Linked DNA regions of Homo sapiens: region 2 is linked to region 1. The links come from fine-mapping of genetic effects on gene expression. A gene starts in region 1. The other region holds a variant in brackets. All regions are shown on one strand. Distances are between the middles of the regions.

Region 1 (5,370 bases):
ACAAAAAAAAATTAGCTGGGCATGGTGGTGCGTGTCTGTCGTCCCAGCTATTCAGGAGGCTGAGGCAAGAGGATAGCTTGAGTTTAGCAGGTCGAGGCTGCAGTGAGCCATGTTTGCACTGCTGCATTCCAGCGTGGGCAACAGAGCGAGACCCTGTCTCAAAAAAAAAAAAGATAATCATAAATTAAACACAGGACCCAGCAGTTCTACCCTTAGGAATCTACCCAAGAGAAATGAAAACACACACCTATACAAAGACACCTAAACATTTGTAGCAGCATTATTCAAAAAAGACAAAAAAAACTGGAACCCTAAATATCCATCAGCTGGTGAATTAAGAAAAAAATGTGGCATAACCACACAGTGGAATACGACTCAGCAATGAAAAGGAACAAACTACTCTAGACGCTACAGGATGAACGCATTTCAAAAAACATATTGAATGAAAGAACCAGAAGCAAAAGGCCACATAGTGTATTATTCTGTTTATATGAAACATCCAGAAAAGGCAAAGTTAGAGACAGAAAGCAGATCAGTGGTTGCACAGGACTGGAATTGGGAGCTGGATTGACCAGAAACAGGTGGGAAGGACTTATCAGGTTGACGGAAACATTCTGTAACTGGATTGTAGTGATGGTTAGGCAACAGTACAAATCACTGCATTTTCTTTCTTTTCTTTTCTTTTCTTTTTTTTTTGGAACACAGTCTCACTCTGTCACCCAGGCTGGAGTGCAGTGGTGAGATCTCAGCTCACTGCAACCTCCACCTCCCAGGTTCAAGCGATTCTCCTGCCTCAGCCTCTGGAGTAGCTGGTGCGCCACCACACCCAGCTAATTTTTGTATTTTTAGTAGAGACAGGGTTTTGTCGAGTTGGCCAGGCTGGTCTTGAACTCCTGGCGTCAAGTGATCCGCCCACCTTGGCCTCCCAAAACGCTGGGATTACAGGTGTGAGCCACTACGACCTGCCTGGTTTAAAAAAAAAAAAAATGAGCCCGGGTGCAGTGGTTCACACCTGTAATCCCAGCACTTTGGGAGGCCAAGATGGGCAGATCACAACTTCAGGAGTTCGAGACCAGCCTGGCCAACATGGTGAAACCCCATCTGTACTAAAAATAGAAAAATTAGCTGGCTTGGTGGTGGGCACCTGTAATCCCAGCTGCTCAGGAGGCTGAGACAGGAGACTCACTTGAGGCCGGAAGGCAGAGGTTGCAGTAAGCCGAGATCGCACCATTGCACTCCAGCCTGGCCAACAGAGCAAGACTCTGTCTCAAAAAAATAATAATAATAGTAATACAAAAGTTAGCTGGGCGTGGTGGCTGGCACCTATGATCTCAGCTACTAGGGAGACTGAGGCAGGAGAATCGCCTGAACCCAGGAGGTGGAGGTTGCAGTGAGCCAAGATCGCGCCACTGCACTCAAGCTTGGGTGACAGAGTGAGACTCCATCTCAAAATAAATAAATAAATAAATAAATAGCCTAAAGGGACACTAGAGTGGGTGGCGTGTTAGGATACCATAGTGGTACTGTAGGCAGGGAAAAGGCAGCGAGGACTTGTGCAGACTCCATTTCCAGAGCTGCAAAATGGGAATAATGACGCCAGCCCCCCAGTGAGAGGCTGGATGAGAAGGGATGCGCAGAAACTGTTGGGGGCACAGAGCCTGAAGAGCATCTACTGTTTTCCAGTGCAGGCAAGAAGCAGCTGCAAAAGACTGGAAAAAGCAGTTTAGAGCTTTGGGATCAGAAACACTTGTGTATGTAACTACAGGGTGGTTCCAAATGCCATCAGCACCGGGCGTGGTGGCTCACGCCTGTAATCCCAGCACTTTGGGAGGCCAAGGCAGGCAGATCATTTGAGGTCAGGAGTTCGAGACCAGTCTGGCGAACATGGTGAAACCCTGTCTCTACTAAAACAAACAAACAAACAAACAAAAAACTGGGCCAGGCGCGGTGGCTCATGTCTGTAATTCCAGCACTTTAGGAGGCCGAGGCTGGTGGATCACCTGAGGTCAAGAGTTCGAGACCAGCCTGACCAACATGATGAAACCCTGTCTCTACTAAGAATACAAAATTAACCGGGTGCGGTGGCACGCGCCTGTAGTCCCAGCTACTCGGGAAGCTGAGGCAGAAGAATCGCTTGAACCCGGGAGGCAGAGGTTGCAGTGAACCGAGATCGCGCCATTGCACTCCAGCCTGGGCAACAAGAGCGAAACTCCGTCTCAAAAAAAAAAAAAAAAAAAATGCCATCGGCATGTTAGCGAGAAAATGTCAACTATTTCATGCATCAGCCACACCCACCCCCATCCCCAGGATGCTTGCCCCACCACTTTCTCTTTCTTTTGTAAACTGAAAAGCGCTTTGCAGTCTAAGATAGTCCATTAGAGTAAATGAAGCCATGAAGTCCAGCGGACACCGGGAGTGGGGAGTGGGGAAGCCCGGCACTCCGGGAGACCGGGCCAGGGAAGGAGGGTCTGGACCGGACCCAGCCCCTGCCCGGGGAGCGAGCTCCGGAGCTGCCCTACGAGGTCAAAACGTAGCAGTGGCGGAGACCCGCAGGGGGCGCCCGAACGCCACCCTCGGCCCCTCCCCGCTCCAGAGGCCCCGCCCCGTCACGTGCCCGCGGTTCGCGTCACACCCGGAAGCAGGGGCCCGAGCGGAGCCGGCCGCGATGAGCGGGGAGCCGGGGCAGACGTCCGTAGCGCCCCCTCCCGAGGAGGTCGAGCCGGGCAGTGGGGTCCGCATCGTGGTGGAGTACTGGTGAGCGGCCCCGGCTGGAGGACCCGCACCCTGGTCCCGCGGGCCGGACGGAGGTGGGTCCACGGGAGGCCCCACCCCCGAATCCCCAGCCCAGCCCCATCTCTTGACTCCCCAGTGAACCCTGCGGCTTCGAGGCGACCTACCTGGAGCTGGCCAGTGCTGTGAAGGAGCAGTATCCGGGCATCGAGATCGAGTCGCGCCTCGGGGGCACAGGTGAGGCTCGCAGAACACCTGCTGGGTCAGTCTGTGCTCTGAATCCCAGCTCTCCCGCTTTCTAGTTCTGACATTGGCTGCTTTATGTAAAGTGCCCGCAGTGCCTGGCACATGGTAAAATGTCCGGCCAACATGAGTTCCCTTCCATAGGTCAGGGGGTGTCACAGAGGCCTGTGGGGAAAAACCTATTAGACTGCAATCGTGTAGGGTTGGAGGGGAGGGAGTCCTTTATTGAGTGTTGCGAGGGGCACACAGGCGAGGCCTCCCTCAGGTTCCCTGGAGTTGACCCAGGGTTGGGGAATTGCTTAAGGAGCTACAAATGGGTCTCCAGTGGGATTGATGGGGGACTTGAAGGCGGGGGACCCCTTTGGAGGAACTCCTGACTTCTGCCTATGTTCTCAGTGTACCATTTATCTGTTGATTTCTTACCAGGTGCCTTTGAGATAGAGATAAATGGACAGCTGGTGTTCTCCAAGCTGGAGAATGGGGGCTTTCCCTATGAGAAAGATGTGAGTATTTACAGCGTTGGGAGGACCTCTTGGTCACCCTACCCCAACAGTGCATCATCCTGTCATTCCACTCCTCTAGCTCATTGAGGCCATCCGAAGAGCCAGTAATGGAGAAACCCTAGAAAAGATCACCAACAGCCGTCCTCCCTGCGTCATCCTGTGACTGCACAGGACTCTGGGTTCCTGCTCTGTTCTGGGGTCCAAACCTTGGTCTCCCTTTGGTCCTGCTGGGAGCTCCCCCTGCCTCTTTCCCCTACTTAGCTCCTTAGCAAAGAGACCCTGGCCTCCACTTTGCCCTTTGGGTACAAAGAAGGAATAGAAGATTCCGTGGCCTTGGGGGCAGGAGAGAGACACTCTCCATGAACACTTCTCCAGCCACCTCATACCCCCTTCCCAGGGTAAGTGCCCACGAAAGCCCAGTCCACTCTTCGCCTCGGTAATACCTGTCTGATGCCACAGATTTTATTTATTCTCCCCTAACCCAGGGCAATGTCAGCTATTGGCAGTAAAGTGGCGCTACAAACACTAATGCTAACTAGTGTGTGTTTTTATACGTCCAGTCTGGGAATGTGGGGGGCACAGAAGTCCGGTCAGCCCAGCCTTTGCACCGCCAGGGTGGCTGTGCTGGCTGGGTGGGCTTTCTGGACAGCTACTCCTTAGGTCAGTGAGCTCCTCTGGCATAGCCAAGGCAAGGAAAATGAGTCCCACAGTAGACCCTGCCTCGTCTTTCCCCCACCCTACCCACCACTCTCCTCACTCACAAGGAGGAAATAACCCCATTCTGGTGAGTGGCCTTAGGAATTAGTTCGTTCTAAATAAGAATGATCTGGTCGTCAAAGGGCTCTCAGATCTGAATCCAGCTTCCCGATCTCCCCCAACCCTGAAGCTGGAGAACTGGATGTCTGGCTCCTCATCCAAGCTTTCTGAAGATTCCCAGCCACTCCCTCCAGGAAAAGAGGAATTGAGTGTAAGGTGAGCAGGAAGGGATGGCACAGAGCCACCCCCAGACATAGGCCGGTGCCTAGCTGTTTTCCAAAATATATTTGCAAATGGACAAAGTGGGTGTGGAGAAGGACCCCCCACACTTGCCTCCCCATACAACACCCATTCTCCCCCTGGGTCTTTATTTCATCTTTAAAAAAACAAAACAAAAAAAGTAAAAACTAAACAGAAAAGCACTCTGTACAAAGCCTGGATACTGACACCATTGCTGTTCCTTCCTCATGGGGGGCAGTACTAGGTTTCAGGGACAGTCTCTGAATGGGTCGCTTTTGTTCTTAGACACTCCCTTAGGGCCGCTTCCCCTCTCAGGCCAGCTTCCCTAAGGCTTTCAGTACCCAGGATCTGGAAGGAAAGGGCCAAGCTGGGCTGTGGCATCCACTGGACCCTAGAGTCTCATTGGGCAGGGCCTCAGAATCCACAAAGACTCCCCAGTGCTGTTCCTCTTCCAACGAGGCTGGACCCCTTCCAGCCATCTGGGAACTCAAGCAGGAAGGAAGGTTCCTTAGGACAGGTTCCTGGCATGGCAGGTTCCCCTGGAAGTGGTCGGAGGGCCCTCCCACCTCTTGATGCCAGCAGAAGTCAGGCCTTCCCTGCTCCCTGAGGACACATCAGGGCTTCTGCGGACTTGGCCTTCTGGTTCACACTGGCACGTCCAGACCCAGGTACTCTGGGTTCTCTGCCGTAGGTGTCCCTTTGAAGGTGCTGGGTGGAGCCCCCCGCTCTGGTGGGTCCTGGTCCCAGTAATAGAGGTTGTCGAAGGCTGGGCTGAAGGCAGGAGGAGGGTGGGGCTGAGGGGCAGCTCCTCCCTGGGGTGTCAAGTACTCGGGGTTCTCCACGGCACCCCCAAAGGCAAAAACGTCTTTGACGACCCCATTCTTCCCTGGGGAGAGAG
Region 2 (5,370 bases), 34 kb after region 1:
CTTCTATCTCAATTCTTCAAAATGCACCCTTCTTGCTTATTTAAGGAGGCACCCAGCACCCAATGCATTCAAGGTTTCTTCTTTGCCCCTTGCCTTCTATTAGCCTGCTTAATTCCACTTCTCAACCACATTCTATTTGGAGCCCCTGACCCTATTCCTTAGGCCTAGTGGTAGGGGTGGGGATGGAAGGAAGACTTTTTTTTTTTTTTTTAATTTCAACAAGATATTGCATGGGACATATTTATACTAACAAATTATTCATTGTTTATCTGAAATTCAAATTTAACTGGGCCTCCTTATTTTTATGTGCTAAATTTGGCAGTTCTAGTTGGAATGCCCCAGCCAAGAATGCAGCTATACTGGTCAAGAAGGGATCAAAGGCACCTATCAGGGACTGGAGAATGAAGGACACCAGCATCTCTTTCTCTCTTCCCTCCCCCCCATCTCCCACACCTCTTTACAGGTATACACTTGCATTTCTAAACTTGCTTCCATGTGCTGAGCACACTTAAAGCAGGCACCTCTTGTGGGACAGGTTGCTATGCCATCCTAGGGAGTTGAGAAACAGGGGCCTCTGGGACCAAGAGGACCTGGGTTCAAATCTTGAATCTGGCCAGTCGCGGTGGCTCACACCTGTAATTCCAGCACTTTGGGAGGCCGAGGCAGGCAGATCACGAGGTCAGGAGATCGAGACCATCCTGGCTAACACGGTGAAACCCTGTCTCTGCTAAAAATACAAAAAATTAGCCAGGTGTGGTGGCGGGTGCCTGTAGTCCCAGCTACTCAGGAGGCTGAGGCAGGAGAATGGCGTGAACCTGGGAGGCAGAGCTTGCAGTGAGCTGAGATTGCGCCTCTGCACTCCAGCCTGGGAGACAGAGTGAGACTCCGTGTCAAAAAAAAAAAAAAAAATCTTGACTCTATTCCATATCAGTCATGTCACCTTGGGCAAGTGACTGAGCATCTCTGGTCTCAGTTGGCTCATCTGTAAAACAGCATCTGACATACTATGCTGGGGTTAAAGGAGATAATGCTCTGGAAGCACTCAGCGCAATACTTGGCACATAATAATTGCTCAATAAATGGTCCCAGATTTAGTTATACTGGGGCAGATCTAGGTTTTGTGGGGCCTGAAGCTTATATAATTTGGGAAACTCTCTTTAAGAAAGTAATACAAAGTTGGCCGAGTATGGCGGCTCATGCCTGTAATCCCAGCACTTTGGGAGGCCAAGACAGGCAGATCACGAGGTCAGGAGTTCGAGACCAGCCTGGCCAACATGACAAAACCCCATCTCTACTAAAAGTACAAAAATTAACTAGGTGTGGTGGCAGGCACCTGTAATCCCAGCTACTCGGGAGGCTGAGGCAGGAGAATTGCTTGAACTCAGAGGGCAGAGGTTGCAGTGAGCTGAGATCTTGCCACTGCACTCCAGCCTGGGTGACAGAGTAAGACTCCATTGAAAGAAAGAAAGAGAGCAAGAGAGAGAAAGGAATTGAACAGAAAAAGACCCTAGCACGGCTGGGTGCGGTGGCTCATGCCTGTAATTGCAGCACTTTGGGAGGCCAAGGCAGGTGGATCACCTGAGGTCGGGAGTTTGGTACCAGCCTGACCAACATGGAGAAACCCTGTCTCTACTAAAAACACAAAATTAGCCGGGCATGGTGGCGCATGCCTGTAATCCCAGCTACTCGGGAAGGCTGAGGCAGGTGAATCGCTTGAACCTGGGAAGCGGAGGTTGCGGTGAGCCAAGATCGCGCCATTGTACTCCAGCCTGGGCAACAAGAGCGAAACTCTGTCTCAAAAAAAAAAAAAAAAAACAAAACAAAAAAACAACCCTAGCACATTCATATAGTAAGGATAAGGTGGAGTTTTGTACAGGTATCCAGAGTGATAATGTAAAATTAACTTATTCCTTGGACCGCTGTCACAAACATTCGAGAAATATTGCTGTGTATGGAACACAGCAGCCCTTCTGGATGGCCATCAATATCCCTATTTTCTCTTGAGCTGGTGTTAGGGTTAGGGTGAGGATCAGGGGAACTGAGGTAAGCAATTTGCCCAGGATGTCTTAGGGCTAGAGAGAAAAGTTGGGCATGTATCAAAACTGACCCCTTACTCTCACCCCATCATCCAGCCCAGGACCTGGTCAACCTGCCTCTCAGTCCTGCAGCTTACAGCCCTGCGGGAAGAGGATGCGCTGACCTGGCTCCAGGAGTCACTGGTTCATCACACCACACCTTGGAGGGCTTGCACCTGGATGAGTGTGCAGGCAGCCTTAGAGGCCATCGGGATGTTAGGATCAGGGTTAGAGGTGTCCTTTCTCCCCA[G/A]GCCCCACCCCTGCCCTGCTGTTGTGTCCGGAAAGGTTAGTCCAGTCAGGAAAGCTACTGTGGACGCCATGCTTCATTGGACCCTACTCTGTGCCACTCTGACCTACAGCCACGTTCCTCAGAACACTGAGTCCCCAAGACTCCAGAGGAGGCAGGTGTTATCATTCCCCATTTTGCAGAAGAGGAACCTTGAGCCTTGAGATTCCACGAGCTAAAGGAACTTTCCCAAGGTCACAGAGCTGAGCTGGGAACTGAGCCATGGCAGATTTGGCTTCACCCATTACCCTCAAGAGCCCCAGTCAAGGGTACCAAGAGGGGAGACAGAGGAAAGAAGTCCAGGTAACTGTAGGTCCCTCCCTCTACAAAGATCCTGCTTCCCCCCTTCACTCTCCACCCCCCCGCCCAAGCAAACCCATCCTCTCTGCATCCCAAATCCCAGGAAGAAACCCGGACTGGCAGACAATGCCCAGTCCCGGTGGGCGGTAGAGAGGGTGGAGCAAGCTGGAGAGGGGGCTGGAGTGGGGATGGGGGGAGGAGCTGGGGTCAGAACTCACGCCCTGGGGAGGAGGCTCGAGAGGGGCCGAGCCTCTGAAAAAGAATGAGCCCATTCAGAGCTGGGAAGCCAGAGGAAAAAACCTCGTCTGGTGTCTGACAAGAGGAGAGGAAGGGGGGCAGGGGTGGGCGCTGCTGATTCGATTTCCTCCTTAACTGTCCCTCCAGCAGGGCCTGGCAGGAGAGCCCAGGAAAGAGGATGTCTGAGGGACAAAGACAGCGAGGGGGACCCTCAGGGAAGGGAAAGGGGTGCTGGTGAGAGGGGTCTAGCTAGGGGGCTGGGGAGAGGGAGTGGGAACAGAGTGGGGCTGACTGCGGGACAGAGGGCAGCAAACTCAGATCAGGGCAGATGCGTGTGTTTTGCCCAAGACCCCAGCCTGTGGGCAGTGGAGTGACCACTGACACTGAAGAGGCAGGACAGGGCTCTAGCTTCCGAGGGTGACCTCTAAGTCAACAGGCTGGGGCTGCAACCAGCGGCCTGTGAAATGCCAGTCAATCATTGACCAGCCATGGAGACTGGGGGGCACAGGAGACGTGTGTGTGTGTGTGTGTGTGTGTGTGTGTGTGTGTGTGTGTGTGTGTGTGTGTATGCATGCACCAAAGTCTCCTCCCTCTACCTACTTCACCAGCCAGCTTGGGGTCAGAGGACTGAAAACAAACAGAAATCGGGAGGAGTCGTCTGGTCCACAGTCCGATGTCCAGGCCACAAACTGAGGCCTACCCCACAGTGCCTTGAGGCTGAGGCACAGGTTGCTGGGGAAGTGACTGTAGGAATTAGTTCATTGGAAAGAGTTCCTCAGAGTAGGCTTGAGGTGTCCCTTTGGGCCAAAGGAGGATAACTTAGAAGCTTCTGATAGGAAAATTGGTCCTTCCTAGGGGTGGCCCTTGATGAGCACTTGTATCCTAACCATGGGGAGGCCACTCCCTGAGCCCAGGATTAGCCCTAGTCTCCAGGACAGCAAAGGGGCAGAGCCAAGCTTGCCAGACACTCTGACCCTGGGCCCCTCTTACCCACATCTCAGGAATGCAGGCCCAGGCCCCAGGAGTAGCTTTTATCTCTCCCCAGGCTGCTCTGCTGAAACAAAAAGCACTCTTCTGTCCTGCGACTCACCTCACTTTTGTGCATGTCCACAACAGTACATGTCACTCTCATCACTGCCTGCGCAGGCATGGCTGCCAGGGTCTGAGTCTCTGTGCTGCACTGCGTTTGTCCTGGCCATTCTACTGGTGCCCCCGTTTTATCTGTGACTCTTTGCTCAGGGAGTAGCTTTGCATGTGGTCTTGAATATAGCTTTGCTTTGCCACCTGAAATAGAAGAGTTGGACAGAATGGTTCCTGGTCACAATATTTTCGGATTTGGTATAGGGACAGTGACCCCTTCAACCCCCATACTTGTCCCTTGAAAGCCCCACTGAGCCATCCTTCTCCTGGATTCTGGATTCCTTGTTTCAGGAGCACTAAGTCTTCCTGCCCGCTTCATTCCACTGATCCACTGGGCCTTTCAGGACATCACTTGCTCACTCGACTTGCTGCTGGAGGTATAGACCACTGGGGTATGAATGAGGGCATTCTTGCCTCTGACTTTTGGTCCAAGGAAGAGGAGACGAGGAACCTTTGAGAAGCATACAACTATGGCAATCACAAAGTCTTGATTTCAGGGGACAATTCGTTTCTGATGGTTTCATTCACTGAACCCACCTGGTTGATTCTTCTCTTCCTTTGCCCTTCAAATCCAATCATTCTTTAAGATCTATCAACTCCTCTTTTTGATACATTTATGCTTATTCTACCTCCATCACCAGCTAGTCTGAGTCTCTATCATTTCTCCTTTGGGCTAAAGCACCAGACTTTGATCACTACCCCTCCACCAGTGCTACTTTTGACACCCTGCAATTCTCCCCGCAGCAACAGCAGCCAAAGTAAATGTTTTATTATTATTTATTTTATTTTATATATACACATATATATGTGTGTGTGTATATATATATACACATATATATGTGTATATATATATATATACACACATATATATATATATATATATATATATATATATATATATATATTTTTTTTTTTTTTTTTTTTTTTTTTTTTTTTTTCTGAGACAGAGTCTCACTGTCACCCAGGCTGGAGCGCAGTGGCATGATGTCGGCTCACTGCAACCTCCGTGTCCCGGATTCGAGTGATTCTCCTGCCTCAGCCTTCCGAGTAGCTGGTATTACTGGGATTATAGCATGCACCACCACATCCAGCTAATTTTTGTATTTTTGATAGAGGCAGCGTTTCTCCGTGTTGGCCAGGCTGGTCTCAAACTCCTGACCTCAGGTGATCTGCCCACCTCGGCCTCCCAAAGTGCTGGGATTATGGGCATGAGCCACTGTGCCCGGCCTATTTATTTTTTAATTGAGACTCCTGACCTCAGGTGATCTGTCCACCTTGGCCTCCCAAAGTGCTGGGATTACAGGCATGAGCCACCACACCCAGCCCTATTAT

What was found. PIP is the estimated chance that this variant, and not a neighbour inherited with it, causes the effect. A credible set is the group of variants that fine-mapping cannot tell apart.
Region 2: its variant is the best candidate, but not a certain one, in a credible set for the expression of MIEN1 in whole blood (INTERVAL, PIP 0.52).

Annotation. Positions count from the first base shown.
Region 1 is chr17:39,727,791-39,733,160 of GRCh38, reverse strand. It overlaps MIEN1 (migration and invasion enhancer 1), which reads left to right and starts at 2,629. Exons shown (of 4, transcript NM_032339.5): 1 at 2,629-2,754; 2 at 2,870-2,967; 3 at 3,400-3,476; 4 at 3,556-4,651. The coding sequence starts at 2,666. The coding sequence ends at 3,639. ERBB2 (erb-b2 receptor tyrosine kinase 2) reads right to left here. Exons shown (of 27, transcript NM_004448.4): 27 at 4,503-5,370. The coding sequence ends at 5,117. RefSeq lists a silencer at 2,388-2,947.
Region 2 is chr17:39,693,800-39,699,169 of GRCh38, reverse strand. It overlaps a transcript of ERBB2 not described here. Among named protein-coding and RNA genes, the nearest start is that of ERBB2, 3.6 kb to the left of the region's middle. RefSeq lists a silencer at 2,720-3,014. The variant G/A (reference allele first, on the strand shown) is at 2,326.